7 linked regions of the Homo sapiens genome follow. The protein of the gene in region 5 purifies or fractionates together with the protein of the main gene of each other region. This does not show direct contact. Each region holds a gene or a part of one and is shown on either strand. Other genes may lie near its edges.

What was found.
Region 1: the proteins of PRSS50 (region 5) and SPCS2 purify together in Homo sapiens (affinity purification with mass spectrometry; 2 studies listed by BioGRID and IntAct, with this or other methods). This does not show direct contact.
Region 2: the proteins of PRSS50 (region 5) and SFXN2 purify together in Homo sapiens (affinity purification with mass spectrometry; one large-scale study listed by BioGRID and IntAct). This does not show direct contact.
Region 3: the proteins of PRSS50 (region 5) and FOXF1 purify together in Homo sapiens (affinity purification with mass spectrometry; 2 studies listed by BioGRID and IntAct, with this or other methods). This does not show direct contact.
Region 4: the proteins of PRSS50 (region 5) and KDELR2 purify together in Homo sapiens (affinity purification with mass spectrometry; one large-scale study listed by BioGRID and IntAct). This does not show direct contact.
Region 6: the proteins of PRSS50 (region 5) and PIGS purify together in Homo sapiens (affinity purification with mass spectrometry; 3 studies listed by BioGRID and IntAct, with this or other methods). This does not show direct contact.
Region 7: the proteins of PRSS50 (region 5) and SLC25A40 purify together in Homo sapiens (affinity purification with mass spectrometry; one large-scale study listed by BioGRID and IntAct). This does not show direct contact.

Annotation. Positions count from the first base shown.
Region 1 is NC_000011.10:74,962,080-74,966,451, reverse strand, and holds part of SPCS2 (signal peptidase complex subunit 2), read right to left. Parts: intron 1,419-4,372; coding exon 1,335-1,418; intron 690-1,334; coding exon 529-689; intron 1-528. UniProt on the Homo sapiens protein: Component of the signal peptidase complex (SPC) which catalyzes the cleavage of N-terminal signal sequences from nascent proteins as they are translocated into the lumen of the endoplasmic reticulum.
Region 2 is NC_000010.11:102,734,264-102,738,635, reverse strand, and holds part of SFXN2 (sideroflexin-2), read right to left. Parts: intron 2,775-4,372; coding exon 2,727-2,774; intron 974-2,726; coding exon 874-973; 3' UTR 1-873. UniProt on the Homo sapiens protein: Mitochondrial amino-acid transporter that mediates transport of serine into mitochondria. Involved in mitochondrial iron homeostasis by regulating heme biosynthesis.
Region 3 is NC_000016.10:86,508,954-86,513,795, reverse strand, and holds the start of FOXF1 (forkhead box protein F1), read right to left. Parts: upstream 3,270-4,842; 5' UTR 3,227-3,269; coding exon 2,248-3,226; intron 872-2,247; coding exon 711-871; 3' UTR 1-710. UniProt on the Homo sapiens protein: Probable transcription activator for a number of lung-specific genes.
Region 4 is NC_000007.14:6,477,108-6,481,479, reverse strand, and holds part of KDELR2 (ER lumen protein-retaining receptor 2), read left to right. Parts: intron 1-4,372. UniProt on the Homo sapiens protein: Membrane receptor that binds the K-D-E-L sequence motif in the C-terminal part of endoplasmic reticulum resident proteins and maintains their localization in that compartment by participating to their vesicle-mediated recycling back from the Golgi.
Region 5 is NC_000003.12:46,711,057-46,715,181, forward strand, and holds the end of PRSS50 (probable threonine protease PRSS50 precursor), read right to left. Parts: intron 3,446-4,125; coding exon 3,162-3,445; intron 2,012-3,161; coding exon 1,845-2,011; intron 1,427-1,844; coding exon 1,190-1,426; 3' UTR 1,061-1,189; downstream 1-1,060. UniProt on the Homo sapiens protein: May be involved in proteolysis through its threonine endopeptidase activity.
Region 6 is NC_000017.11:28,557,776-28,562,147, reverse strand, and holds part of PIGS (GPI-anchor transamidase component PIGS), read left to right. Parts: intron 1-518; coding exon 519-726; intron 727-1,956; coding exon 1,957-2,099; intron 2,100-3,557; coding exon 3,558-3,672; intron 3,673-4,372. UniProt on the Homo sapiens protein: Component of the glycosylphosphatidylinositol-anchor (GPI-anchor) transamidase (GPI-T) complex that catalyzes the formation of the linkage between a proprotein and a GPI-anchor and participates in GPI anchored protein biosynthesis.
Region 7 is NC_000007.14:87,832,473-87,835,991, reverse strand, and holds the end of SLC25A40 (mitochondrial glutathione transporter SLC25A40), read left to right. Parts: 3' UTR 1-2,424; downstream 2,425-3,519. UniProt on the Homo sapiens protein: Probable mitochondrial transporter required for glutathione import into mitochondria. Glutathione, which plays key roles in oxidative metabolism, is produced exclusively in the cytosol and is imported in many organelles.

The sequences.
Region 1 (4,372 bases), on a different chromosome or scaffold from region 5:
ACCTTGGATTTCAAACCCATATTCTCTAGCTCCAGAATAAGTTCTTAATTCCACTGTAATACAAGCCACACTTGTATCTCATGCTCAGTACTTTCCAGTTCAGCTCCTCAGCTTCAAGTAAACTTAATACAGATCTGAGTCTCCAAAATCAGATCCTTTCCTAATATCCTAGAATGAGTGGCTTGAAGCAGCCACGTCTAACGGGAAAAGTTCTGGGCTAGAAATGAGAAGAGCTGGGTTCACTATTACTATGTGTTTTGCTATTAAGTGCTCATATTAGGACAATAACCTCTACATTAATAACAAAAATGAATTACGATAAAATAACCATACAAAACATAAAATATCAGTGACAGTTACTATATAAACTGATAGATATTTACTATATAAACATCACAGCTCAAAATGTTGAATTCTAACATTAGCAAGCCCTAATATGAAAGTCCGTTTTGTTTTTTGTAGGGAGAAATATCAGCAGATTTAAAAAAATAGTCACTAGAAAACAACCTGAGCATAAATAAAGGATATGATATGACACACAAAGCCAAAACGGGTTTGGACTCTGGAAAGGGGTGCATATAATCCCAAATCAAAGCCACTATGGCAAAGAAACAGGAGATTGTACAGATGGTGAGGCGACCATCAATTAGACCAAAATTCTCCACATATTTGTATTTTTCCAGAAGTACCTGGTGAGAAAAACAAGGAATCAAGCTAATAGGAATACTTCCTCCCCAGTATGTGCTTTTATTCTTGATTTCCATGATAAAAGAATCATATGAATTACCAAGTAGTTCCCTCCAGTTGGGATTTTACCACACCAAACAAGTAAAACTCAAGCCTTCTATAAAGAACCAAGAGAAAAAGTTCATCAATCCCTCATATAAAAAACTTTAAACTCCTCAACTTTTCCCACAGCTAAAATGTTTTACTTTTACAAATGGAGAGATGATTTATCATGAATGAATGTCCTATCTTCTCTCACCCTTCTGTGCTCTAGGCTAATTAATCTCAAAAACAAAAAATTACCAGCTTTCTTGAGATAGCCAACATCTATATTTCTTTTTTTTTTAATTTTATTATTATTATACTTTAAGTTTTAGGGTACATGTGCACAACGTGCAGGTTTGTTACATATGTATACATGTGCCATGTTGGTGATATTTCAACACACTTCCTCTGACTTTTTCTGTGAGAAATTTTAGAAACTGCTTTCTGACTTAATTTCTAACACTGAAAACTAAGGTCACTCCAAGTTACAAAAGGAAAAGATTTCCCAGGAGAGATGGCCATCAGCTGTATAGATACTAACCAACCCCTCCTCAAGAAAGTACCTTTTTGGCAGAATCATCCAAAGAGTTTTTCACAGCTGATCCATCCCACTTGTCAATTTTTACAGGCTTATCATCTATCTTCCACTGTAAAACAAACAAAAAAGTTGTGCATCAAGAAACCTGGCCTCTTACTGAAAGTAAAATGAACCATTTTTTAAGAGCATCCCTCATGCACATATAATATTTACTCTTTGTCTTCTGATGTTGCAGAACTAAAAGACAAAACAGGCTATTCTGGGCACACTCCTATGGGGTAGCCCTGCAAGAAGCAGTTAAAAACAAACAAAAAAGACCAAACAATTAAAAATCAGGTTGAAAGAGACTAGGTCACTAGAGTCAGGTGGTACTCATGTGATGCTGATGTTGCCAGTCTCCATGCAGAGAATATAAAAACAACCCCAGAACCAGAAAACGTATATGGGCTGCACAGACTGTAAGTGTAAACTTGTATATCCCACCTTCATTTTACCGAAATGTGAGTACAGAAAATTACTCTATTTGTTCATTCTTTCTTTCTGTGACCACAAAACTCAGAAAATACAGATACATGAATTTACAGATACTAACAAAATGGGGAGGATCTCCTTTAATATCACTTTGTCAGCTAACAACTTTTATTATTTTACCAGCATGTCTTAACTTTAAGATAGCAATTCCAGGATAGCCTGTTGGAAACAACACTACATTTTAAATTACAAACCAAGTCCCAGACTCAGTCCCAACACGAGTTGAGTGGACAAACTCTACTTCTATTTCCCTTATCTATAGAGGTTTAGAAAGTTTCCCAAACACTGCTATTCAGAAGCAAATAATTCTCTCACTGCTCATGTAGAAGTTCAAAATGTTACAGCACCTACGAATGCCAACTTAGCACCCTGAATTCAACTTCCCACTTCCAGGAATGTTTCTATAACTGAATACATGTGAAATGAAATACAAGGCTACTCACTGCAGCATTGTCTGTAATAGTGAAAAGCTGGAGGTAACTCGAGTGCTCATTTACAAGGGGATTGGTTAAACAAACTACGGTACATCCAGATATCTTATCAGGGTAGAGAAATACGGGGAGGAGTAAGATTACTCTATGTGTGCCTTTAAAATTTTTTAACCATGTGAATATATTACATAGTAAAAAATTTTCTCAAATGCAAGTATTTAAGTAAATATAGCTTAAGAGGAACAGGGTGCTACAAATAATCTGACAAACCTGTTTTTTGTAGACCATTAATGGCCAACTCTTAATTTTTTAGATCAAGTGAACAAATATTGTATTCCATAAAAATTACAAACCAGCAAGCAATCCAACGTTCATCTGGATTTAGAATGGATTATTTTACTGAAAGACAGAGAATGTCATATTTATCTTTCGGATTGAGCACAAGTACAAAGATAATGCCTATAAGAAATAAAGAGATGGCAGTGGTGAGTACCTGCCATCCCAGATACTTGGGAGGCTGAGGTGGCAGAACAGCTTGAGCCCAGGAGCTCGAGTCCAGCCTGGGCAATATAGTGAGAGCTTGTCTCTGAAAATAAATAAATAAATAAATAAACAAACAAACAAACAAACAAACAATAAAAAATAAAATAAGAGATGGGATAAAAATAATTGTAAAGATTTTAAACAACTACAGAAATACAATTCATCAACCTTGTTTTTTTTTTAACTGTGATTCTATATATTATTACACAAAAGAGAAAACCTGTTCTGTGAAGTTTGTTAGAAGAAATAACATGAGCTAAAAATAGCCATACTTAAAGTGATTAAAAGTCAATCAAGTTTTTTTTCCCCCTTGGTGCCCTGTAAAAGCAAAAATTTTTCTTTGAGAAAATTACTCATGGCAGCATACTGCACTATTGACTGCCATAGACTGCCAGCCTACAAATCAAACACGACATCTAATTTTAAAGATACAAACTGAACCAAAAAGAAATTAGCAGGTTTTCTAGCTAGATAGCTCATTTACACTGTCAAGTAAATCCCTCTTTGAAGACATGCAAAAGAACCAACTTGTAGAGCCAAATCCACCATAGCATTTGAATTATTTGTGAAATAAAGTCAGAATAAAGTCATTTAAAAATTATGGGTCATTCAAAAACAGGAAAATCATATTCTCAGACACCTAGCCACACTTCACTGCCTGCATTGCATCACAGAAAAGAAACTTGCCTTTAAAAGTCAGAGGATAATGTCTTAACCAATTTGGGAGAATAAAATGCAGAAGCAGCCATTACAATGTATTGAAATAGCCTCAGCTCTAACTTCACTGCCTGGTACCTAGAAGCAATCTTCAGTAAGTGGAAAAGAAACATTTCCAGTGAATTACATGAAATCACAAGAAAGGTTATAATTTGACTTTACGGCAACACAGCCCATTTCGAAGCAAGTAATGTCTCTACTACAGTATGGAGAACCATCTGGAAGAAGGGGAGTTGCTATTAGGTGCTTCTTTTTCTGATTATTACTTCTCATCATGCTCAAAAACTGCTCATCAACTAAAATGTATGCTGCTCCTCATGTTCTCTCTACTACTAATTCGGGTATTTTAAAAGCTATCTTTTTTTTTTTTTTGCCTCAATTTTGTCTTCCTCAACACTAATTGCAAATTGCTTTCCTTTTGTAATAATAAAAAGAGAAAGCAAAAATTAGTTTCTTTTATGTGGGACCTCACAGGATAAATTAAAAAGAAGGGCAGTGTGCAGAAATAAGTGAACCTGGGTCCAAGACTGCCATCTTTAGCAAGGCTTGTTTGCAAGGTTGGCCCTTGGCTGGTATCTGACAAGCTGGCTGATAAAACAAATCCCTACACTGATATAAATACATTCCCTCAGTGATAAGAATGGCTCACTGTGCCTCAACTGTTTGTATAAATGATGTGATTTATGTTGAACACCTTTCCTTCTGGAAATCTAGAAAAAGTTCTTTATGTTGCCAGTATCTAAAATTTCAAGATGATATCCCTTACACAGGTCAATTTTCACCCACTGTAAAACTGCTATTGCCACTCATCTTTTTATTGCAGCACTAAGCAGACCCTCAA
Region 2 (4,372 bases), on a different chromosome or scaffold from region 5:
TAATTTCAAGGTTAGCAGCACTCCCAAAGAAGCTGTCCGGGCTGGGTGTGGTGGCTCATGCCTGTAATCCCAGCAATTTCAGAGGCTGAGGCGGGCGGATCACCTGAGGTCAGGAGTTCGAGACCAGTCTGGCCAGCATGGTGAAACCCCGTCTCCACTAAAATACAAAAATTAGCCAGGCGTGGTGGCAGGTGCCCTGTAATCCCAGCTACTTGAGAGGCTGAGGCAGGAGAATCGCTTGAATCCAGGAGGCAGAGTTTGCAGTGAGCCGAGATCGCGCCACTGCATTCCAGCCTGGGCGACAGAGCAAGACTCCATCTTGAAAAAAAAAAAAAAGAAGCTGCCTGACCAGGGGGCAACGAGGAGGAGGATGTGGAAGGGTGATGAGCCCCAAGGGGACAGAGTCCTTTCCCCCTTCTTTTTCCTGAGTTCAGCTAGAATTACATGGGTAAAAGTTTCCATTGCTTGGGAGAGGAGGAAGCGAAGAAGAAAGAGGTATAGAAGCTTCCTTTTGATCCAAGGTCTTTTCCTCAACCCTGGCTGGAACCAGAATCCTAAAGGTTTCCTAACTTTTCCAAATGATTTGCTTGGATGTCTCCTCCCTGAGAGGGCCTCAGCTTCTGGTCTCCAGGGGACAGGGGTTGAGGAAGCAGCTAGAAGACATTGGCCTTTGCTACCCTTTTTCACTTTTTTCCCCTGAGGTCCAATCAACCAGTACCAGGGTGTAAGTATGAGGCATTCATTGTCCCACCCCCCAATCTACCCTGGCCTTCAGGCCTTGTTGGCAAAGGGGAAGGAGGACACAAGTGTGCACGTAGCTAAGGAGGAGCTGGTGAATATGGGAATAGACTGGTCCTTGCTGAAGTGGGGCATTTAGAGACCCTTATTGAAGTAGACATAAGGCTCAAGTTCTCCATACTTGGCCTTGATAGTGTCTTGGAGCTTCGGTTCCAGATAGGAAACTGGCAATTCACTGAAAAGAGAGAAGTGGATTATGAGCATGCCACCAGGAACAAGCAGTAAGTTACCCTCAGATGAATATCACCTCCAAGAAGCCCTCCTGATTTTTCCATCTAGGATTATTATTGGCCTCTGTATACCACAATGTTGCTTTACCATTACGCAGGCCTGACTTCATTCTCCTTGGGCTATGGTTCTTCGTTTCAACTTCCATCTTCTCCACAAGATTACAAACACAGTGCTTGGGACACAAGAGATGTCTAGCAGATGACCATGGAAGTAGTATTGAACTAGAGTACTGAGGAAGGGGAGACTGGAATTGTCTGGGTATATATTCAAGCTACACTTGTCTCCTGGGGTCAGTCACCCTCCACCCCCTAGTCTGATGTATCCCTTCCCTTTTCCATCATCCCTTCTCCCTGCTTCCTCCTTCTTGGACACACAAAGGAAATAGAGGGGTTTCGGTTGTCAGCCCTCTGCCTGTCCCTTTATTTATTTATTTATTTATTTACTTATTTATTGAGATGGAGTTTCACTCTTGTTGCCCAGGCTGGAGTGCAGTGGTGCAATCTCGGCTCACCGCAACCTCCACTTCCCAGGTTCAAGCAATTCTCCTGCTTCAGCTTCCCAAGTAGCTGGGATTACAGGCATGCACCACCACACCCAGATAATTTTGTATTTTTAGTAGAGACGGGGTTTCTCCATGTTGGTCAGGCTGGTCTTGAACTCTCGACCTCAGGTGATCTGCCCACCTCGGCCTCCCAAAGTGCTGGGGTTACAGGCGTGAGCCACCACGACCAGCCCCCTTATTTAATGTTAACGACCAACGGGGAACGGTGGCTCACGCCTGTAATCCCAATACTTTGGGAGGCTGAGGCGGGCAGATCACCTGAGGTCAGGATTTCAAGACCAACCATGGCCAACATGGTGAAACCCCATCTCTACTAAAAATACAAAATGAGGCCAGGCGCGGTGGCTCACGCCTGTAGTGCCAGCACTTTGGGAGGCTGAGGCGGGCGGATCACAAGGTGAGGAGATTGAGACCATCCTGGCCAACATGGTGAAACCCCGTCTCTACTAAAAATACAAAAATTAGCTGTGCGTGGTGGCACGTGCCTATAATCCCAGCTACTCGTGAGGCTGAGGCAGGAGAATCGTTCAGGGAGTCGGAGGTTGCAGTGAGCCGAGACTGCACCTCTGCACCCCAGCCTGGCGACGGAGTGAAACTCCATCTCAAAAAAAAAAAAAAAAATGAGCTGGGCATGGTGGCAGGCACCTGTAATCCCAGCTACTCTGGAGGCTGAGGCAGGAGAATCACTTGAACTGGGAGGCGGAGGCTGTGGTGAGCCGAGATCGTGCCACTGCACTCCAGCCTAGACAACAAGAGTGAAACTCCATCTCAAAAAAAAGAAAAAAAAAAAAGTTAAAAACCAGATCCAGCCAGAGGAGAGCTTCCTAATAACCCAGCTGGCAGGAAGAGAAAGTCTGTTGTTGCTCCCCCACCTTCTCTTCAAGGCAGTGCTTGCTCCACTGGGAGGGAGCAACCTTATTCCTGTCCCTGGCTTCTCCTGCCCCTCGCAGATCTGTTTTCGTTTGTCAGAATTCACCAGGGTTAAGAGGCCCAGCCTTTAGGCTGATGGACACTTGTCCTCAGACAGGTGCTGCCCTTCCTGCCCCTTCCCTGTCTCCTTCTGGACAGCAGGCAGATCAGGGAGCGCGCTGGCAGCATGGTCAATTAAACCAAGTAAGGAATGAACAGCAGATACCATTTCTGTGGGAAAAGCCCACACGCCACTGGCACCATGAAGATGAGGCTGCAAGAAAGGAGAAACCAAAGCATCAGGGGACATCTCCCCACAGGCCCGTCCATCCCCCATCCCCAAGGGAAAGGAGCAATGCCCAGGCACCTGGCCTGCCTTCCCAGCTGGCACCATATCCTCTCCCTCCAACCCTCCTCCTGTTCCCGCAGTGCGAGGATACTCATTCTGGCAGGGGGATAAAACCAGTACCCTCCTGACCCCCATCACTCATTCCCACCCTTACTGCATTGTTCAAGCAGAGGAAGAAGACAATGAAGTAAACAGGGACTGTGAGCAGCAGGCCTAAGGAGCACAGGCACTGCTGGCATCGAGCGAAAGGAGCGACGAGGAGGGAGAGGAGAAACTTGGAGGGGGAGGAGCAACATGGAGGGGGAAGAGCGACATGGAGGGGAGGAGCATCATGGAGGGAGAGGAGGGACATGGAGGGGGAGGAGCGACATGGAGGGACAGGAGCAACTTGGAGGAACAGCATGGAGGGTGGGGAGCGACTTGGAGAGGGAAGAATGACTTGGAGGTTGAGGAGCAACTTGGATGGGGAGGAGCGACTTGAAGGGGGAGGAGTGACTTGGAGGGAAGGAACTACTTGGAGTAGGAAGAACTACTTGGACAGGGAGGAGCAACATGGAGAGGGAGAAGGACATGGAGGGGAGGAGCAACATGGAGAGGGAGGAAGGACACAGAGGGGAGGAGGGATGAGGAGGGAGAGGAGCAACTTGGAGGGGGAGGATTGACTTGTATCGGGAGGAGTGACCAGGATGGGGAGGGGCACTTTGGAGTGGGGGAGGGGCACTATGGAGGGGGAGGAGTGAGTCTGTGGATTCTGAGACCTGCTTCTTTATTGGTTGAACACCTGGGCTGTCAGAGCACAGTGAAAGGCAGTTTCTCCAGCTTCACTGTGCATATAACTTCAGGAGCTTATTAAAATGCCAGGTGCCAACTGAGGGGGTCTGGGGAAGGACTTCAGAGTCTTTACTTCTAACAAGTTATCAGAGGATGCCAACGATGCTGGCATGGACCAGGGTTTGGGAGGCAAGGTCTTACAGGACGCGGGACTCTGACAGACCTGGGTTGGTATCCCAGTTTTACCACTTACTAGCTGTGCCATCTTGGACAAGTTACCTCAGAGACACAGAGGGAGGACAACCTACTTTTTAGGGCTACTGCAGACCACTTTGCAGTGCCTACTTTGCAGGGTTACTGTGAGGATTCAATGAGATATGTATGTAAAGCACCCAGCCCATGGTAACTACTCAATTAGCAGAAGTTGGTATAGCATAATGTTAGACTGTTGATCAAATCTCAGCTCCAGCAGTTACCAGCTATATACCCTTGGGCAAGTTTCTTACTCTGTCTAAGTCTCAGTTTCTTCATTTGTAAAAGGAGATGATAATAATATGTAGATTTCTAAGGCTGGGAGAATTAAGTGAAATTATAGATATGAAACACTGGGTTCAGTGGGGACACAGAGAAAATATACAGTCAGTGTTAGCTGTTAGTGATGCTGTCATTAGTCTCGTGGCCCTGAAATGCATGGTGAACGCTAGGACATCTCCAGTTAATGGCAGATACCTAAGAACCCTGACGTGACTGGT
Region 3 (4,842 bases), on a different chromosome or scaffold from region 5:
GGGACGGAGGCGGACGCCCGGACGGCCGCTTGCTTCGTGGCTCCTTTGACTTTCTGTTTAAAGACGGACAGTGGCTTCCGAAATGCAAGTTGTTCGCACAAAGATCCACCTGTGGTCCACGGAGGAGACTTCGGAGGTGGGGAGGGAGATCGGGAGGGAGATCTGAGCTCTTGTCACTTCCCGCTCCCTGCAAAAGACGGCTCTAAAGGGAGACTTGCGCATTCCAAGACATTCTTTCAAAAAAAAAATAAAAAATAAAAAGATAAATACTCAACCAAAAAATAAAAGTATTTGATAATGATTGGTCTCACATGTTTGCTTTTCTTCTAAAAATTTTCCCCCACTTCTGCCATTGGCCGGAAGGAGGGGGGACCTCAGCAGAATTCCTGTGTGGGTGCGGGGGCTTTCCCCTGCACAGCACCGTCTCAGGCGGGTTCAACAGGATCAAAAACTTTTATTTACCGATGGCTGCAGTCAGATCAGACCCACCACTAACATTTCTTAACAATTTTGAAGGAGTGAGGAAGGAGGTGCCAACCGCAGCGCTGTGTCTTTGCATTGGGGACTCCTTGCCAAAAACTCCGGTTGGGGAGAGGTGGAACCCTTTTCTTCTGCCGACGGTTATACCTCGAGAAGAAAGCAGTTTCTTGTGCCGGTCCAGGGTCCCTGTGACCCGCCTGCCTGCACCAGGAGGGCCTGCGGCGGCAGCCTCACATCACGCAAGGCTTGATGTCTTGGTAGGTGACCTGCTGGTGGTAGTAGGAGCCCCCGCCGGCCGAGTGCATGGAAGAGGACGCCATGGCGTTGAAAGAGAAGACAAACTCCTTTCGGTCACACATGCTGGGCGACTGCGAGTGATACCGCGGGATGCCTGCAAGGCGAGGCGACAGGAGGGGTTGGGGGAGCAGAAGAGTTAGCCACGGTGGCTCAGAGTTCAGGCAGAGGAGCAGTGCTCCCGTGGGGCGCACAGGGCCTGTCAGCCTGGCTCCAGAGCACGGCCGCCTCCCCGCTCTCCTCCCCGAGTCCCGGCCTTCCAGCTGCGCACCCAAGGAAAAGACTCCAGAACACTTGCCACGGCCTGCCTGCCTGCCTGCCTGCCTGCCTGCTGCGTGCCTGTCCAGCCTCGGACACCGTGCAGGGGCCCAGGGCTTCCAGAGCCATAGGGGAAGTGGTGAGGGAGACCAAGTGGAGGGCCCCTAACGCCCATGGCCGTCACCGCCAGGGCAGCCACCACCACCCCCAACCTCAGAGGCTACGACTGCCGGCGGGGTTGAAGGAGAGGCCAGTGCAGGGCCAGCGCCGGGCCAGCAGCAGGGGTGAGAAGAAGCTTCTCCAGAGAACAGGCCCCGGAGCCGGGGAGTCCCCCGCAGAGAGGCTGCCTAAGGCCTCCAGGCCTGGCTCCTGCCTCCTGGGGCTGCTGACAGCTGACCCTGGACTGGCCCTGGCAAGCTCACTCCAGCTTTTTCCAGAGCTGGGCCTGCAGGCTGCGGGGGGCCTGGGGCAGAATCAGGAGGCGAGGCTGCTGCATCTCCCTTGGCAGATGCTTCTGCATGTTCGGGGTATTGGGGTATCAGGGGTGTTGGGGGTGTGGGGACCTGAAAACTTGGATCCTAAAAAACAAGGAGCCCCCATGGCCCGGTCTGCAGCTCTGACCCTCCGGGGCCTGGCCACGGCACCCTCCTGCCTCAGTCACCACAAAATGCCCCTGGACTCAGCTGTGGGTCTGCCAGGTCTGGTCCCCTGAAAGGCCGGGGCTGAGCCTCTGAGCGCTGGCCCAGCGGCTTTGGGCCTAACACCTTCCGTTCCGCCCAGCCCCAGGCAGAGGCAGCCCTCCAGGCAGCCTGAGGGCCACCACCAGGGAGGGACAGCCATCTGGCCAGCGCTGGGAGCCTTGGGTCCATCCCAGGATCTTTCCAAGCTGTGAGGGGACTTAAGGGACACAAAAGGACTTAGGGCACTGGGGTCTGGGACATCTGGCTCAGGACCAGCCTACCTGGTCAGGCCTGGAGCAGCTGGCAGCTGGAGTTCGAACAGAAAGAGAAACAGATTGGCCCAAACTAGGGTCAAGAGCGGTAGTCACTCTTCGAAGGGGGAGAGGTGGGGCCAAGAGACACCTTGGGGAGCTGGTGCCTCCCCTCAGCCTTGGGGTTCCGACCACAGAAGTGGAGGGGCTCGCCCCAGCTGGGTCCCGCTGCCACTCAGACTCGACTTCCCGGGGACCAGGGCGCCCTCGGCCTCCCCACTCACCTTGCAGCTCGGCTGGGGCGTTGTGGCTGTTCTGGTGCAGATACGGCTGCTCCAGGGAGTGCGTGGAGAGGCTGCCGGACAGGGGGTTGGCCGCGGGGTTACAGGGGGACAGGGGCTGCTGCTTGATATAAGAGGCGCCGCTGTTGAGCGCCGCGGACGCCGAGGGCGGCCAGGCCGCCGCCGAGCCCGAGTAGACGGCGTGCGGCTCCATGACCCCACCGGCGCCGGTGGGCAGCAGCGGGGAGGCGGGCACCGAGCTGTCGTGGTGCGGGTACTCGCCGGCCGCCGCGCCGCCGCAGCCGCCCATGTACGAGTGGCCGCCGTTGGAAGGCAGGTGGGGCACCGAGTGGCTGGGCAGGGCCATGCCGTCCACGTTGCCCGGCAAGTGGCCGTTCATCATGCCCAGGCCGCCCTCCAGCGCCAGGCTGTTGGGCGGGCACGAGAGGCCGCCGGCCGAGCCCTGGAAGCCGTAGGTGTCCGGGAGGTGGTTGAAGCCGAGCCCGTTCATCATGCTGTACATGGGCTTGAGCGCCTGGCATTTCCTTCGGAAGCCGCGCGGCCGCCGCCGAAAGGAGCCCTCCTCGAACATGAACTCGCTGGCCGGGTCGATGGTCCAGTAGTGGCCCTTGCCGGGCCGCCCAAGGCCCTTGGGTAGCTTGATGAAGCACTCGTTGAGCGAGAGGTTGTGGCGCACGGAGTTCTTCCAGCCCTGGTAGGAGCCCCGGAAGAAGGGGAAGCGGCTCTGCAGGAACTGGTAGATCTCGCTCAGCGTCAGGCGCTTGGTGGGTGAACTCTGGATGGCCATGACGATGAGCGCGATGTAGGAATAGGGCGGCTTCTCCGGGCGCCGGATGCCGGCGTTGGTCTTCTTGGCCTTGGACGGGCCGGACGACGCGGGGTCCATGGCCGCGCCGCCTCCCCCGCCGCCGCCGCCGCCGCCGCCGTGCGGTGGCTGCTGCTTCTCGGGCGCCGAAGACATCGGGTGGCTGCTGCCGCCGCCGCCGCTGCCGCCGCTGCTCTGCGCCGCGGACGGGCCGGGAGGAGGAGGAGGAGGAGGAGGAAGAGGACGACGGGGGGGAGGAGGGCGAAGGGGAGGGGGCTGCGCGCGCGGGGCTGGCTGCACCTCTGCCGTCATCGGCGGCCACTTCTCCCGAGCGAGCCGCGGCGCGCCCGCCCCCGCGCTCCCGCCCGCCCTCCCCGAGGAGCTGCTGGATCCGCCGGCGGTTGGCTCAGAGCCCCTCTCTCTCCAACTCCCGCCTCCCCCACCTCTCTCCTCCCTCTTTCTTTCTCGCCCTCCCACAAGGAAAGGAGCCGAGCTGAGGCCGAGGGCAGCCCGGGCGAAGGCCGTGAGGAAGCTACCCCCGCCGGTATTTTTTGGGGGGAGGCACCACCTCCAGGTCTTACGGCCGTGCGCCCCAGCCGGGAGCAGCCCTGAGTCCCCGCCGCCCGCGGCGCTCGGCTCCGAGATTCCGGGCGAGGCAGCCTTCACTCCATCTCCGCTCGGCTGCGTCTCGCGGGTCGGCCTAAGACCCTCCCGGAGTTCCCTCCCTCCGTCCCTGCCCCCCTCGGGCCCCCGCGTTGGTGGGCGCTTAAAGAGCCCCCACTCTCGCCGCCCCGCGGCCGCCAGCAGAATCCGCCCCGCCTCCACCAACCTGGCGAGCAAGTGTTAATGCGCCCTCCGCCCGCGGTTCAGCCCCGGTGCGCGCTGGACCCCGCCTTCCCCGCCCGGGCGGCGCGGCGGGAAACGCTCCCTGGGCCGGGGCCTTCCCCGACGCGCACAGCCCTGTAGCAAATCGCAAGTGCGGCGGCCTCCCGGTCGTGACCATCGCAGGCACAGCCGGCTCGACTCCGGTCCTCGCGGCCGGCCGGCTAAGTTCCCGCGAGGGACCGCCTACCCACTCTCCCCGCCCCGGGAAGAACTGCGCCGCTCCCGGGATTTTTCGGACTCGCCCAGCAGCTTGCGAGCGGGCGGGCAGCCGCCGGGGCAGAGCGCAGGCGGAAAACGAAAGCGCAGCACGAGTCGCGGCCGCTTTGTCTCGGGCGCCGCGGGCCTGACGGGGGCGAGTGAGAACCCGCTGGCCCAGAGGCGACCCAGACCGCACAGGCCCCTGAATAAGCGGCGTGCTCAGTCACTCACCCGTGCGCGCACACCCTCGCGCTCTTGTCCACACATTAGCACACACATACATGTCTTGATGCACATGCAAACCCGGTAAATTACGCAAACAGACGTGTAAACACACCCATGCGTGTGTGCACACTCATATGCAGAGGGCGCTCAGGCATGTGCGCACCCACTAATGCACTCGTTGACACGGAAGCTTAAGGCCCACAGGAGCTTAAGTTCGCACTCACTCCCACTCACGCGTACACACGCCACGCTCGGATCTGAACTCACACGTAGTTCAGTTGCCCTCCCCCACCCCCAACACACACTGAAAACCCGCCTATTTGGCCCCGCGGCCCCGTTTTCAAAGCGCAGGTTCCGATTTCCCGAGAGATGGCAAAGGCCCTGGCAGGAAGTTTACAGGGTTTAACGTAAACAAGTTCTGGGGGATTCTTTAATAATAATAATAGAGAATTCCGCGTGCGCAG
Region 4 (4,372 bases), on a different chromosome or scaffold from region 5:
CATTAAGCCTTGAAGTGTGCTGTCTCCTAAACTTTTATCCAAACTAAGATATTTGGGAGAATTTAGTGCAACTTCAGAATAATGATTTTTTTTTCTTTCTTTTTTTTTTTTTTTGAGATGAACTTTTGATCTTGTGTCCCAGGCTGGAGCGCAATGGTGTGATCTCGGCTCACTGCAACCTCTGCCTCCCGGGTTCAAGCGATTCTCCTCAGCCTCCTGATTAGCTGGGACTACAGGCGCTTGCCACCACGCTCGGCTAATTTTTGTATTTTTAGTAGAGACAGAGTTTCACCATGTTGGCCAGGCTGGTCTCGGTCTCCTGACCTCATGATCCGCCCGCTTCGGCCTCACAAAGTGCTGGGATTACAGGCGTAAGCCACTGCGCCTGGCCGTTTGTTTTTTACTATTCACTGTTTTCATTTGAGAGATTCAGGAGCATATAAGGAAAATATGAAATACTTCAGCTAAAATGCTAACGAAGGAAGTGAAATAGATGAGTTAACTTCGTGTGTGTGTGTTTGCCAAGTATTCCCGGGACATTATTAAATTGTTCTTGTTCTCAGACTTAGGATGATTTCTGTCCTGGTTTGTGTGTTTTCCTGATTTTAAGTAAATCACCCAGATCATTTATTCAGAATTAAATGCTAACTTTGACAAGCTGCTTTATTTTTCCATACTAAATTATAAAAGTTGTTTAGAGTCTTTTGAAAGAGTAAGAATTTGATATGAGTTTCTCAAATGACTGGAATAGGAGAAACGTGCATCCAGATTGTGTTTCTCATTTTGAAAATACTCATACCAAGGTTCATTTTTAGGATTTTAGCACTGATTTTGAAAATGCTGTTTTAGTCTCGGAACCATGGTGCTTTTTACCCCATAAGGATCAGGGATGAGGCTGACTCGTGTGGAAGCTGGAGATTCTGTGTTCCTCATAGGCAGATTCCAGAACAGCTGCCTTTAAGGACCGTTTTAAAGTGGGGGCAGTGAGTTGATCATGTTTGAGGCTGCATTCTCTTGTGGCTGTATCTGCTGTTGTCATTACAGAAGGGTGTCAACATGGAATGTGAGTTTCTCCTATTCTGAATTATCATTGCAGCTCGATCCACGGTATGCTCAAGTTGTCACTTTATTTTTGTCCTAAACACTGACCTACATAACCTCGGAAGAACAAGCGGTGGTTTTAGATGAAGGGCTTCCTATTCAAATTTTCCTGTAGGCCAATGGTTATTAGTGCTGTATCTACTGTAGTGCTGTGTCTATTAGTAGTGTGTATTACTGTAGCTAGTTATCAGTAGTGTGTATCTACTGTAGCTAGAGGAGTCTTTCTGAGATCCACGACCCCGGGCCTTCCCCCTCTAGTCTGTCTCCTTCCCTCCTTCCCCTGTTGCTTAGATTGTTGTTAGCTGTTATGTAGGTTGTAAACTTTTCATCCTACCAAACCCCATACTGGATCTTATGGTGTCCATACATTTCAGATATGGGACAGTTGATATTTTTGGAGTAATATAGTGGGTAAGATGTGGAGTACTCCAAGAAGCTTTTGCTTCACATATGCAGCTCCCTCTGTAGCTGTTTGGCCTGTGCTCTTTTGAGTGCCAGTCTCTGAGTAATCATTACTCTCATTTATTGACCACCCACTATGTGCAAGGCACTGGCACACAATTCAGAGCAGCAGCTTGTAGCTATTAAAAGTTTTTGTTCTTGGCTGGGCGTGGTGGCTCACGCCTGTAATCCTAGGACTTTGGGAGGCCAAGGCGGGCGGATCTTGAGGGCAGGAGATCCAGACCATCCTGGCTAACACGGTGAAACCCCATCTCTATTAAAAATACAAAAAAATTAGCCGGGCATGGTGGCGGGCGGCTGTAGTCCCAGCTACTTGGGAGGCTGAGGCAGGAGAATGGCATGAACCCGAGAGGTGGAGCTTGCAGCGAGCCGAGACTGTGCACTGCACTCCAACCTGGGTGACAGAGGGAGACTCCGTCTCAAAAAATCAAACAAACAAACAAAAAAAAAGTTTTTGTTCTTGGCCGGTCTTAGTGGCTCATGCCTGTAATTCCAGCACTTTAGGAGGCCAAGGTGGGTGGATCACTTGAGCACAGGAGTTCAAAACCAGCTTGGGCAGCATGGTGAAACCCTGTCTCTACCAAAAATACAAAAGTTAGCCAGCCGTGGTGGTGCGCTGTGGTCCCAGCTACTCAGAAGGCTGAGTGGGGAGGATTACTGGAGCCCAGGAAGTCGAGGTTGCAGCGAGCCGTGATCACACCATTGCACTTCAGCTTGGGTGACAGAGTGAGACTGTCTCAAAAACAAAAGACAAACAAAAGAGAGAAAAGTTTCTATTCTCAAGAAAGCTGCAATGTAGTTGAAATGATAGGAAAATGTACAAAAGATGGCCGAGCACGGTGGCTTACACCTGTAATTCCAGCACTTTGGGAGGCCGAGGTAGGTGGATCACCTGAGTCAGGAGTTCAAGACCAGCTTGGCCAATATGGTGAAACCCATCTCTACTAAAATTACAAAAAAGTTACCCGGGCGTGGTGGCAGGCACCTGTAGTCCCAGCCACTAGGGAGGCTGAGGCAGGAGAATTGCTTGAACCCAGGAGGCAGAGGTTGCAGTGAGCCGAGATCGCACCACTGCACTCCAGCCTGGGCGACAAGAATGAAACTCTTGTCTCAAAAAAATAAAAATAAAAAATAAATATTAAACTTTGCTGATGGACATAGAAGATGACCTGCATGTATGTTCATACTACGGTCCTGGAGAGCACCCAGGAAGGCTGGTGAGGAAGCAAGATGACATCTCTCCAAATTGATTTCTTAATTCAGAATAGTATCAAAGCTAAAGACAATAAACTGAGTGAAATAATCTGTAATATACCTAAGTGACAAAAGGTTAATATCTATAATAAAGTACTCCTACAAATAAAAACCCAGCTGAAAAATGGGCAAAGTTGGCAATTCACTGAAGAATAACGAAAGACCAATGAAGCATGAAAGGATGCTTAGTCTTGCTAGGAGTTAGGAATTTGAATATGAAAATAGCAGTGCGGCCAGGTGTGGTGGCAGCGCTTTGGGAGGTCAAAGCTAAAGGATCACTTGAGGCCAGGAGCTTGAGACCAGCCTGGGCAACATAGTGAAACCCTGTCTCTACAAAAAAAATGAAAAATTAGCTGGGCGTGGTGGCGTGCACCTGTGTCTTAGCTACTCAGGTGGCTAAGGAGGGAGAATCGCTTAAGCCCCAGGCTGCAGCGAGCTGTGATCATGCCATTATACCCTGGGTTGGGCAACTGAGTGAGGTTCTGTCTCAAAAAAAAAACCGGGGGGCGGGCAAGCAAAGAAAAAAGAACAGCAGTACATACCACTGGGTAGGAAAATGTTGGCAAGGATGTGAAGAAAGGGTCTTTGCATTTCGTGTTAGTAGATACGTAAATTGGCATAGCCTTTCTAGGAGAAATTTGACAATATCAAATTTTAAAATGTTCATGTCTTATTTTTGGTTTATGTGTTTTAATTTGCATTATTTGGGGTTACGGATTAAAATTTTTTAATTGATACATTATGATTGGATCTATTTATGGGGTACAGTTTGATGTTTCAATACATGTGTATGTTGTATAGTCTAATCTGGGTAGTTATTTCCGTCACCTCATGTGTTTATCATTTCTTCATTCGAAAACTTCTAACTATTTTGTAATATATAATACCTCATTGGGAAGATTGCTTGAGCCTAGGAGGTCAAGGCTGGAAGCTATGATTGCACCAGTCTACTCCAGCCTGGGCTACAGAGAGAGACCCCATCTCGAAAACAAAACAGAAAACAAAAGACATTTAACCTGGCCCAGTAGGATAAGACAAGAATGATGTTGTTTAATGACTGATTTCCATTTAACAAGTTGTACTCCTTAATATAGATGTTTGGTGTATTTGGTAAGGGGATATCAGTTTCAGAAACATTTACAAAAGTGAGTATTCTGGGAGATCTTATTACCTGGTAACCTTAGCATGCTTTGATCTCAAAGTGGAGAGAAGCCGACTAGGAGCTGCTCTGGTTTAATAGCAGGTATTCTACTCCCAACCCCTCCAGGAGATTCTTGCCCCACCCCCTTCTGTCTTCAGCTAGGATTCCCATTTTCCTATGAAGACAGGACAGTTTTGTTGTTTTAAAGGAAGAAGCTGCTACTTCCTAATCAGGATCTCAGGCTGGGGAAGAACAGTGTGGGACCACGTTAGCATCCGCAGATTTCCAGCAAGGCTGTCCTGCGTGGACGCTACTCCATGGACCGGCTTCAAACCACACACTGCCCTGTGCGCACCTGGGGCTCTCTCACCCTCTAGCTAGTAGTTAATTAGGGCAGAGCCCTATTTACAGTCA
Region 5 (4,125 bases):
GAGCCAAGAGGCTGAGGGGCAGCTGCAGTCACCTGGGCCCATCCCGGAGGCAGGCACAGGACTCGGGAGGGACGCTGCCAGCTCTCTGGGTGCTGAGTTCACAAGGCTGCATTCATGATTTTCAATAGACCTGTGATGGTCTGTGCCCAGTGCTGGGGACACAGAAGAGTCAAACCTGGCTCCTGACCTGGACCTGGATCATCACTGTACAGGGAGGAGAGTGATCCAGGCTGATGAGGAAAGCGCATGACATGGGGTCTTAGGAGCAGTGAGGGGCAGAGCCATGGCCAAAGGCCCCGCCATGGAAGCTGAGGACTCTGACACCAGATGGAGGCAGTTGACCGACCTCTGCCCTTGGGGTCCAACCCATGGGCTTCTCATACATAGGGGTGAAAAAGGCCATTCTATTTATGCAGAATTTTCCCATGTGGCCAGGCAGCAGAAGTCCAGAGGGGTAGGGGCCACTCAGGGTCACACAGAGCAGCAGTTGCTGAAGACTGGGGAAGTCCAGGCCTAGGCTCCACCTGCCCTTCCCCTGACATGGGGCCACCACTAGCCTTTTATGGGCAGGCCTGGCTGCTGGTGGTTGGAATAACATCTGACTCCAGTGGGTGTCTGTCACTGTCTCCAGACAGGAGACAGAGACAGAGGGTCAAAGTTCACTATGGCTCTTTGGGGCAATGAAATGCTGTGTTCTAGCCTCTTGCCAGAAATCAGCCAAAGTCAAGGAAAGCCCGACTCCCACAGTTATCACAGAAAGAGCACCCACTTTCCAGCCCAGACAGCTGCACCCCAGCTGGGTCCTGGCAGCCCCAGCTTCAGCCTGGGCGGTATGTTCCAGGCCCCTCGATCATCTGACCCTAATATCACCCCTTCACACCCCCTCCACCTTCTGCGGGAGCCACCCCGAACCTTTGAATGGGGGAGATCCTGGAGGCTCTGCAATTTTCAGTGTAAACTGCCTGGAGTTCCCCACTTCACCCTCATCTGGTTCACCTGTGGACTCCCAACAGAGCAGGCCCAGGAAACGTGGGGCCTCTGAGGCCGGGGAAGAAGGAGGCATGGAAAACAGTAATGTTTAATTGAGCACCTCATCTCCACCCTGACTCTCAGGGCTGTGACAGCTGCACCCACAGCAACCTGGGCACGGAGGCAAGGGGGGCCCACAAGTGAGGGAGGGCACACAGAGTCAGAGGGCAGCAAGGAGGCTGAGGGGCAGTGGGAGTGCCAGGAGCAGGGTCCTGGATGGGGCTGGCAGGGCCAGGGCCTGCCCGTTGAGGCAGTCCCAGATCCAGTGTTGGTAGGAGGAGACCTGTAGGTAGATGGGTGGGGCCTCGCTCTTCTGGCAGCCTGCACCCCAGCTCACCAATCCCACCAGGTACCACGTGCCCTCCATGGAGCAGACCAAGGGCTCTCCAGTTAGCTCCTGTGGGAAGGGTTGGGGGAGTAAGGGTCAGGGAGGCCAGGCAAGGCCAGAGACGACCCAGCTCCAGGACAGGCGGGATGTCCTCACACCACACCTCCACAGTCCCCCAGTGCCAACATAGGTGAGAAGTGCTCCAGACCCAGGAGCTCTTCCTCAAAGGGTTTCATCCCCCACCTCTTAACACCCACCCTCCATCTCCCCACGGACCCCCCACTCCTCTCACCTCCAACAGCCATCCCCATTCCCAGCCCCCATCTGTTTCCTCCCAGTCTCCCCCGACATCCTCCATCCCCATATCCCAGAGTCCTGCCCACCCCCTTCCCTTCCCCTACCCAACCTCCACCGTTCCGCTCTCCCTCCCCAGATGCCTCTCCCCCAGGTGCCCCTGAAGGGGAGTGAGCGAGGAGAGGCCGCTCACATAGCAGAACTTCTCCCTGTGGGTGTCCTCCGCACACATCATCTGGGACTTGATGATCTGAACCAGAGTGGGGATTTTGGTGAAGTTGTGGTAGAAATTGTCACACTCTTTGTTGTTCAGGATGATGACTTCCTTCTCCTGAATGGTCCGGAACTGAGGCCACATGCCTGTGGGACAGGGCCCCATTTAGGCGCAGCCACTCACCGCTGCCCACTACCGCCAGCCTCACTCGTCCTCTCTCCACTGTTCCCCACGTCCCACCTTTTCTGCTTTAGCCACACACCTCTGCCCTCGTTCTAGCCCATACCCATCTAGGGCCCTCAACACAGAGCCCCCGGAGCAGAGTACCCCCAACCCAGCCTTGCCGGGCCTGCTCTCGCTTCCTGCAGTGCCCAGGCCACTGGGGCCCTTGACACCACCTCCACCACACTCGGCCTCTTGGCTTTTGCCACTCCTTCCCTCCTGAGGGCCTGCCAAGCCTTCCTTCTCTTCAAGCATCCCTTCTCCCACAGGCCTCTTCCCTGCTGAGCCTTCCCAGACCCCTCCATGGAGGCCAGGCACTGCTTCTTCCTTCTGCCTCCCTGAGTAGTGTGTCCCTGTCCCTGGCCTAAGCTCCTGGGAGACAGGAGACAGGCCACAGCAGGGATGACAAAGTCACTCCCAGGTCCTCCCACATGGGCTGAAGCCCCCTTGAGCTGTTTTGAGAGTAAGTTGGTTCCTTGAGGCCACAGGGAAGGGCATCTCTCTTATGGGCTGGGGACCCCCTGAAGGAAGTAGACAGTTCTAGGGTCCCCTGGATGTTCCTGAGAGAACACACCTGCTCTCTGGGCCTTGCTCCTGAATTGGGACGACCAGGAGTTGAGGCCCACTGAGGGGAGGGGAAACCATGAGCTCCAGCTGCAGACGGCCCCTAGCCAGCCATGTGGGCCTTCTGGGCAGCATTTTACAACACAGAAGACTGCTCCCCCGACCTCAGGTGCTCTGCTGCAAGCTGCCGATGCCTGGGCAGTGGGTGTGGACTGTGAGGTATTACTCTGTGCCTCTCTGCCTTCAAGGAAGTTCTGTTTACATGCCCTGGCCTGACTCAGGATTCAAAGGCAATCAGGGTCCCCTGAGGCTGGAGCAGCAGTGAGGTGTTCCCCACGAGATCCTCAAGGGGAAGGAGACCTCAGAGATGAGAGCCTGGCAGGAAGGTCCCGGGAGCGGCAGGCTCCCTGGGGAAGGTGCCTCAGAAACATCCATCTGTGGTGGCACCCTGGCCTGCACCCACGTCCTTTCTCACAGCACCCGCCCTGGTCTGCAGAGGCTTTGACTCACCGTCAGCCTTGGAAAGTCCCCAGCCCGTCACAGTGCAGCGGGAATGGTCCTTCAACACATAGTCCGTGCCAGGCAGGCAGATGGGCCGCACGTAATTGCTGTACTTGAGTTCCTGCTTGAGCTTGAGGAGGCCGATGTCGTTGGCCTGGCCCACCCAGGACCAGAACCGCTGGGCCCGGTACCTGCTATGCATGATGACCTGGAGCACCGGGACATCGGAGGCGGTCTGCGTCATCTGGTCAATCCACGGACTCCCCACCCTCACTGAGTAGATAACATCACGCCTAGGGGGGCCGTGAGGGGAGGCCATGATCAGCTCCAGGCCCCCTGCCCCAGCCTCCAGCCTGGGCCTTCCCCCACTCTGCTGCCCTCCCAGAAGATCCAGGAGGGGCCACCCACCCGCTTCAAGCCCCCTGAGCCTACTCCTCACCACAGACATGAACAGGGCCCTGCACACTCACTGTGTGGTCCAGTCCTCAAGACCCTTCATTTTATGGAGGGGGAAACTGAGGCTCAGAGAAGCCCAATGAACCACTCAGGGCTGCATAGCTAGGAGGCAGTGGAAGGGATGCGGACCCAGTTTTCTCTGGTTCCAAACTCTACTCTCAGTCCATAGCATGGACTCTTTCACCCCATGCTGTGCCCTGGAGGAGGCAATTCTACTCCTTCCAGCTCCATGGAATGTGCCATGGCCTGGCTATCTAGCTGCGCACCCCGGGGTACCCCTTGGAGTCTGTATGTTGGCCCTTAGGCCTGGAACACATTTCACTTGTCAGCTCTCACAGCCAGCACTCCTGGCCCCAAAACATCAGAACACTCCCTCTTTTGTCCCCACACCAACCAGGCACCCTTGTGAGCATCTATCTTCCTTTCTGTCTCCCCCAACAAGCTGGAAGGAATGATCCATCCCTCCTCTGCCCCCAGTGTCCAGGCCAGGGCCTTGCTCAAAGAAGTGTCAGAGACG
Region 6 (4,372 bases), on a different chromosome or scaffold from region 5:
TTCCCTTCATGTGGCAGAGCCTGGTGAGAGAATCATCCATAATTATGTAGTTGAATCTATGTATCATTGTATAAACATAAACATAATTTACCCATTCTATTGCTAATGGACATTTGGATTATTTCTAGGTTTTACTGTTAGAAATAATGCTATTATGAATACTTGTTTCTTTGCCATGTGCCATTTTTATATCAGACTCTCCAGTTGTCTGTTTATTCCGCTTTTCTTGCTCAGCATGCCATCTCTGAGTTTCCATTTCACCATTTTACCAGCCCCTGAAGAGTTAGATGCTGCCTGGACCCATGTCAACTGGGAAAAAGAAGAGAACGGAGACAAATGAAAATACTCAATATATACTCATAGCTCAGAAATGCTGAGTTAATAGCTCATGAATCTCAAGAGAGGTGCAAACCTGTTGGTCATTGGCAAAGGGGCAGATTCGGAACAGTAGGAGCCAGGGTGCTTTTTGGCTTTCTTTTCTGAGCCATGGGCATTCTGTCTCTTGCTCACCCCCACAGGACATGATGAGCTACATTGGGCCCAAGAGGACAGCAGTGGTGCGGGGGATAATGCACCGGGAGGCCTTTAACATCATTGGCCGCCGCATAGTCCAGGTGGCCCAGGCCATGTCTTTGACTGAGGATGTGCTTGCTGCTGCTCTGGCTGACCACCTTCCAGAGGACAAGTGGAGCGCTGAGAAGAGGCGGCCTCTCAAGTCCAGCTTGGGTAGGGCACCAGGCTCTGCCACATGAAGGGAGAGGAAATGAATTACATGGGGCAGGAGGGAAATCTGCATGCCAACTTCTTTCTCCTTTCTTCTCTAGTCTCAATTTTTTTCTTATTTATTTTATGTTATTATTATTATTATTATTTTTTTTAGTTATTTATTTTGAGACGGAGTCTCACTCTGTTGCCTGGGCTGAGTGCAGTGGCACTATCTCGGCTCACTGCAAGCTCCGCCTCCCGGGTTCACGCCATTCTCCTGCCTCAGCCTCCCAAGTAGCTGGGACCACAGGTGCCCGCCACCACTCCTGGCTAATTTTTTTGTATTTTTAGTAGAGACGGGGTTTCACTGTGTTAGCCAGGATGGTCTCGATCTCCTGACCTCGTGATCTGCCCGCCTCGGCTTCCCAAAGTGCTGGGATTACAAGTGTGAGCCACCACACCTGGCCTATTTATTTTATTTTATTTTTTGAGACAGAGTCTTGCTCTGTTGCCCAGACTGGAGTGCAGTGGCGTGATCTTGGCTCACCACAACCTCTGCTTCCCACGTTCAAGTGATTCTCACTCCTCAGTTTCCTGAGTAGGATTACAGGTGCATGCCACCATGTCTGGCTAATTCTTGTATTTTTATTTTTATTTTATTTTTTTTTGAGACGGAGCCTCCTGTCGTCCAGGCTGGAGTGCAGTGACGTGATCTTGTCTCACTGCAACCTCCGCATCCCAGGTTCAAGCGATTCCCCTGCCCCAGCCTCCTGAATAGTTGGGATTACAGGCGCCCACCACCATGCCTAGCTAATTTTTGTATTTTTAGTAGAGACGGGGTTTCACCATGTTGACCAGGCTGGTCTTGAAATCCCAACCTCAAATGATCTGCCTGCCTCGGCCTCCCAAAGTGCTGGGATTACAGCGTGAGCCACCACACCCGGCCGATATTTGTATTTTCAGTAGAGATGGGGTTTCTCCATGATGGCCAGGCTGGTCTTGAAGTGCTGGCCTCAAGTGATCCGTCTGCCTCAGTCTCCCAAAGTGCTGGGATTACAGACATGAGCCACAGCGCCCGGCAGCTTTTTCTTACTCAGTGTTCCTCATCCCAGTTTTGTCCTCCTTTTGGTTCCATGATGGAAAGCAGCCCCATTCCAGAGGAGAAACAAGTTCAGCTCAGCTGGGAGTACAGGCTGCCCCTCTTCTTTGATCCACAAGAGCCTCTGACTTCCCTGACTCCTGTTTCTGTAGGCTATGAGATCACCTTCAGTTTACTCAACCCAGACCCCAAGTCCCATGATGTCTACTGGGACATTGAGGGGGCTGTCCGGCGCTATGTGCAACCTTTCCTGAATGCCCTCGGTGCCGCTGGCAACTTCTCTGTGGACTCTCAGGTGAGACCGGGAGCAAGTTGAGGAGTCCTTTTCAATGTCTATACATATTTACAAGTGCAGTCTGTTCCTCCATCTCTTAGAGCTTGCTGATTTGCTAGGAATTTCCTGTGTGTATATGTATGTGAGTGTCATAAGGGTGGGTACTGGGGGTGCGTGTGTGCCCTTGTCTGTGTCCATCCATCCATTGAGGGCAGATTCTGGTGTCTTTACTTCCTTGGCATCCTATTGAGAGAGTTTGTCAGTGCTTGTTAACAAACCACCTTCCTATAGCTCCCTCTAGACCTGTACTCACCAATTGTGCTTAGATGTTAATGCCATGACCCATCTTTTTTTTTTTTTTTTTTTTTTTGAGACAGAGTCTTGTTCTATTACCAGGCTGGAGTGCAGTGGTGTGATCCCAGCTCACTGCAACCTCCGCCTCCCAGGTTCAAGCGATTCTCCTGACTCAGCCTCCTGAGTAGCTGGGATTACAGGTGCGTGCCACCATGCCCAGCTGATTTTTGTATTTTAGTAGAGACGGGTTTTCACCACATTGGCCAGGATGGTCTTGATCTTTGCCCAGCTGATTTTTGTATTTTAGTAGAGATGGGGTTTCACCACGTTGGCCAGGATGGTCTCGATCTTTTGACCTCGTGATCCACCTGCCTTGGCCTCCCAAAGTGCTGGGATTACAGGTGTGAGTGATGGAGCCCAGCAGAGCCATTCTTAAGGAATTTAGTTTTTAGAAAAATGCTTCCTGAAATTTGTTATTGTAGTAACAATAAAGATGTGAAGGGCCAGGTGCGGCGGCTCACGCCTGTAATCCCAGCACTTTGGGAGGCTGAGGCAGGCGGATCACGAGGTTAGGAGATCAAGACCATCCTGGCCAACATGGTGAAACCCCATCTCTACAAAGATAAAAATTAGCTGGGCATGGTGGCGCGTACCTTTAGTCCCAGCTACTCGGGAGGCTGAGGCAGGAGAATTGCTTGAACCCGGGAGGTGGAGTTTGCAGTGAGCCAAGATTGTGCCACTGCACTCCAGCCTGGCAACAGAGTGAGACTCCATCTCAAAAAAAAAAGATGTGAAGAATGTAGCTTTCTGTATCACGCTGTCTCCTTGTAGGGAAAACACGTGGGAGAAATTTTTATCAGGTCTTCCTAGTGGGAGTAATTGCTTCTGAATAACTGGCTTGATTTGATCTTGTAGACACTGAATTATGCTGTTCTTTGTTTCTCTCTTTGTGTAGACTGTTAGGAAACCTGGTAAAATACGTGATTTTTAAAGCACGTATTTAGTTTATTCAGTTTACCCTTGGCTTTGCTATTTTCTTCTGCAATTATTTTCTCTCAGCCCTGATTTTGTCTCTTATATGTTGCCTTGTCCTGATTGTGTCTTTTTTAAGGCACCTCAAATCTTTTTTGGGAGAAAGTAGAATATAAATCTAAACAAAGTAACCACTCCCTGTTTGCTCTACAGATTCTTTACTATGCAATGTTGGGGGTGAATCCCCGCTTTGACTCAGCTTCCTCCAGCTACTATTTGGACATGCACAGCCTCCCCCATGTCATCAACCCAGTGGAGTCCCGGCTGGGTGAGCACCTAAGGATGAGGGTCTTTCTTTTCTGCCAGGCTAGGGAGGGACCCTGACGGCTCAGCTGGGTAGGGGACAGGAGTTGGAGGTGGATTATATACAGTGATGGTTCCCAGGTTGGGTTGGTCCGAGGAGACTGTGGAGATTGAGGCTCCTTTTTTTCTTTTTTTGAGACAAGGCCTTGCTCTGTTGCCCAGTCTAAAGTGCAGTGGCACAGTCATAGCTCACTGCAGCCTCCAACTCCTGGACTCAAGTGGTCTTCCCACCTCAGCCTCTCGAGTAGCTAGAACTATAGGTATGTGCCACTACACTTGGCTAATTTTCAAAATTTTTTTTAGAGACAGGATCTCATTATGTTGCCCATGCTGGTCTTGAACTCCCCTCAAGTGATCTTCCCACCCCAGCCCCCTAAAATGCTGGGATTATAGGCGTGAGCCACTATGCCTGAGCCCTAGGTTCCTTTTTCATGATGCTCTGTTGATATCTCCATCTTCACACCTATCATATCCAAAAGCATTTATTAAACGTGATTCCTAGCACTTTTTACAAATGAATGACTAGGCTGGGTCTATCTCCCTAAAAGCCATCTAGGAGAGAGGCTGTCACACACATAGGAAAGACAACAGCAAAAGTACTTGAGGGCAGAATTTGAATTGACAGTTCTGCTGATTGAGGTTGAATAACCTTGAAGCTAGTATTA
Region 7 (3,519 bases), on a different chromosome or scaffold from region 5:
AAGCAGTCTCTTGAAAGTTTAATATTATATGTTTCAGTGTAACATAATCTTACTGGGAGTGTGTTGAATACACCAGAACTTTTTGAATTGTGTGCTGAATGATGTACATAGTCTAGAAGAAAAAAGCCCAAGTCTTGTGCACATTTAAATCGTGTACATAAGTATTTCCGTATTTCAGTAAAGTAGATAAAGCACTCGTTAAATAGCATTGTTTACATCGACCAAATATTGCCTGTTTCCTTTAATTCAAATGCATTAGGTTCCCGCCTCCCTCTCCTTCCCCGCCATGTTGCTGTTTTAAGGCTTCATATGTATTAACATTTCTCTGATCAAAATTGTGGCTGTTTTCCTTATGAACCATAATATAATCATTTGTGTGATGTACATTGTGCCATTTTTGATGACTAAATGTCTATATTTCTGCCATTCCTGTAAGAGAGGGAGTTTTTTACTGATAGTAGCAAATGTTCACTTCAGTCAAACTTGGGTGTTCAGTGGTAAACCATATAGTATTTAGACTGGTAAAAATAGTTTGCACACAGGAATAGCCTCTGATTTTTAGCTCTCTTGTAATCCAAGTATCATTGTTCATGGAATTCTCTAGGTCATTTTTATTGTGTTGTTCTAACAAGACAGATTATTGCTACAACAATAGTTACAAGATATTTCTAAAATATCCTTTGATTTTTACTCTAAGTATGGTAGAGTAAGAGGCTAAACAAGAAGCTGTTTCCTTGAAGACATTGCTTTCAGTCACCATACATGTCTAAATAATTTAGCTTATCATTCATTCTATGTAGGAATGAGATAAGAAAGGATATGATGGCAGGAAAAGAAATGCTATTCATTTTTTATACTTTAGTTTTATTTTCTTAGGATCTATATCCTATATATATATATTTTTTAAAGCACTAATTTATTGCAGTCTTTATTTTAGAAAAATGTGAAGCATTTTTTTCTCCCCTAAAATGAATATATTTAGATGACAAGTCTTTAGTGCTGGTAGAGGAACTAATTGATTTTGTACTATAGTAGGAAAGTGTTTATATGTTTCACCAGAAATAAAATATGTAGGGTTTGTATGTAATCTTCTGTGTTTATCCTATGTTGATTTACCTTAAATTTGCAACATACATATCCACATAAATATTCATGACTTTCTTATATTTCATTAAAATGTTTTATGGCTTCTTAAAATCATCACTGTGCTTCTAAATATTTTTACGTAAAATCATTGTATAATGCTATACTGTGATATACATGAAAGTTTATCTTGAACAGTGCTCTTTAACAATATTAAATTTAAATTTATCTTGGTTTTGCTATGCTTATGGGTAATTCATAGAAAACAGAAAAAATACTGTTCCCAAAAGGCAGTTATATATTTCAGTTTAATATCACCTATAAGTATGAGAAAGGTTTCCATGTCTCCTACCCCTCACTGCACTTAGGAAAATTCTTATTTATGAATAAAGTAAGATAAGTAAATCTAATTGCCTAGTCGTTTTTTTAACACATATACATGCAATGTATCTGGATGAATAGAAGGCTGAATTGAAGCTTTCTTTATATTTAAGAGGTAAAAAGAAATATTAATACTTTTAAAATATACTAACAACCAAAAAGTGTTCAGAATTTTGCTATAATAATAATTTGTATTAAAATAGTACCTAGAAAAATTCAGTCTATGGAATAGGTAAAATTTTAAAATTTTAATTTGCTCTCAGAGTTCTGTCTGATAAAATAATTGAACTATAATTGGCATGATGAATATTCCCAGGTTTTACTTCAGTATATAAATTTAACTCTCAGCCACATGGGCTTTCCAGACTTTTCAATACATATGATGTTGCAGGAATTGCAATATTTGCAAACATGTGCCACAACAGTGTTCTTGGTGATGTTTCTAAAACAGTTTTTATTCTATTAATGTTAAATTTTCTAACATAAACATTTAATTGATTAATGTAAAATTTTAGGAAGGAACATCTTTAATTTTCAATATGAGATGGTTGCAACCTTTAAAGTAGTACATATTTGATTTTTTTTAAAAGGCAATATTTTTTTTTCTAGGAAAACTATTCATTATGGTTATTTAACTGCATATGTTTTTTAAATTTTTCCCTCTTGGAACAACATGTACTGGGGCCTATCAAAGGGTGGAGGGTGGGAGGAGGGAGAGGAACAGGAAAAATAACTAATGGGTACTAGGCTTAATACCTGGGTGATGAAATAATCTGTATAATAAATCCCCATGACACAAAAGTTTACCTGTGTAACAAACCTGCATATGTACCCCTAAACTTAAATTCTTCCCTCTTTTTGTCTTGGGCACAAGTTTTTGGGATATGGAAAAGTTTATTGTATCCCTTTTGAATTTTCTTCTAAGATGAACTTTTTAAATAAAAGATATTACTGCTTTTATATTTAATCTGTCAACATTTATTGGGACATTTTATGTAGTAGGCAGTATATAAAAAGCACTGGAGATGATAAGATATTTCAGATATTGTTACTGGCCACAGGAGGTTTCAGAGCTATGATTGAGTGATTGATAGAAACATACAAAGGGAGTCATGGGAAATATGGGGAGTTGTTCACTCAGCCTGGGGGCAGAGAAGGGGAGTGGTCAGGAAACCTGAGTTGGACTGACAGACAGGCAATCCAATAAGTAAACATGCAGGGAAGTGGGAGTCTCAATAAGGCAATAGAATTTAGTCCATATGGCTTGAACAAAGTGTATACATGGGAAAGTGTAAACATGGAAATGTAATCTAAGGCCTTGTGCGCTTAAGGAGGAACAAGAAGGCTGTGAGAAACCTAGGAAAAACTTTTTGGCAAAGTTGTAACAGTTAGTTAGACTTGGGTTTTGGAAGATACCCAGCAGTATGGAAAATGGGGCTTATGATAAGGTGATCTATGTTAAAATCTAAAAGTTTTGGTTTGTATTAAAATATGCTTTTTAAATGTACCATAATGAAAAAGAGGTAATTTTAGCTTCCCTTTCCTATCAATCAGTTAAAATGACAAATGCTAAAACTAAATCGAAGCTGCTTTGCTTTCAGAAGAGCAGAATGAACAACAGTCTTGTGACACTTAAGTGGTAATCCAATATGTTAGTTTAGTTTAGCAAAATCTGCACATTTCATCTAATGATAGGAACTTTAACAAAGCAGTTTTCTAAGTTGTAAATTTGGGACACATTGATAACCACTTAAAACTGTATGTAAATCTAATGATTTAACAACTAACTTATGATCTACTTTTTCTGCCACTCATAATTAGTAGTAGCTTGCATTTGGCATTTATCTCTTTAGAACTTCTTTTATATATGATTTTATTTAATGCTTACATCATCCTGATGCCATCTCTTAGGTGCCAAGAAGATAGTGATGATTCTTACAGGTGAGAAAACAAACATGACTATTTTATAATTAAATCAGTAACACTGCCAGAACCACTACTAAACTGTACTGATTGATTGAATAGATGTTGTGTATTCTAAAGCATATCATGTTA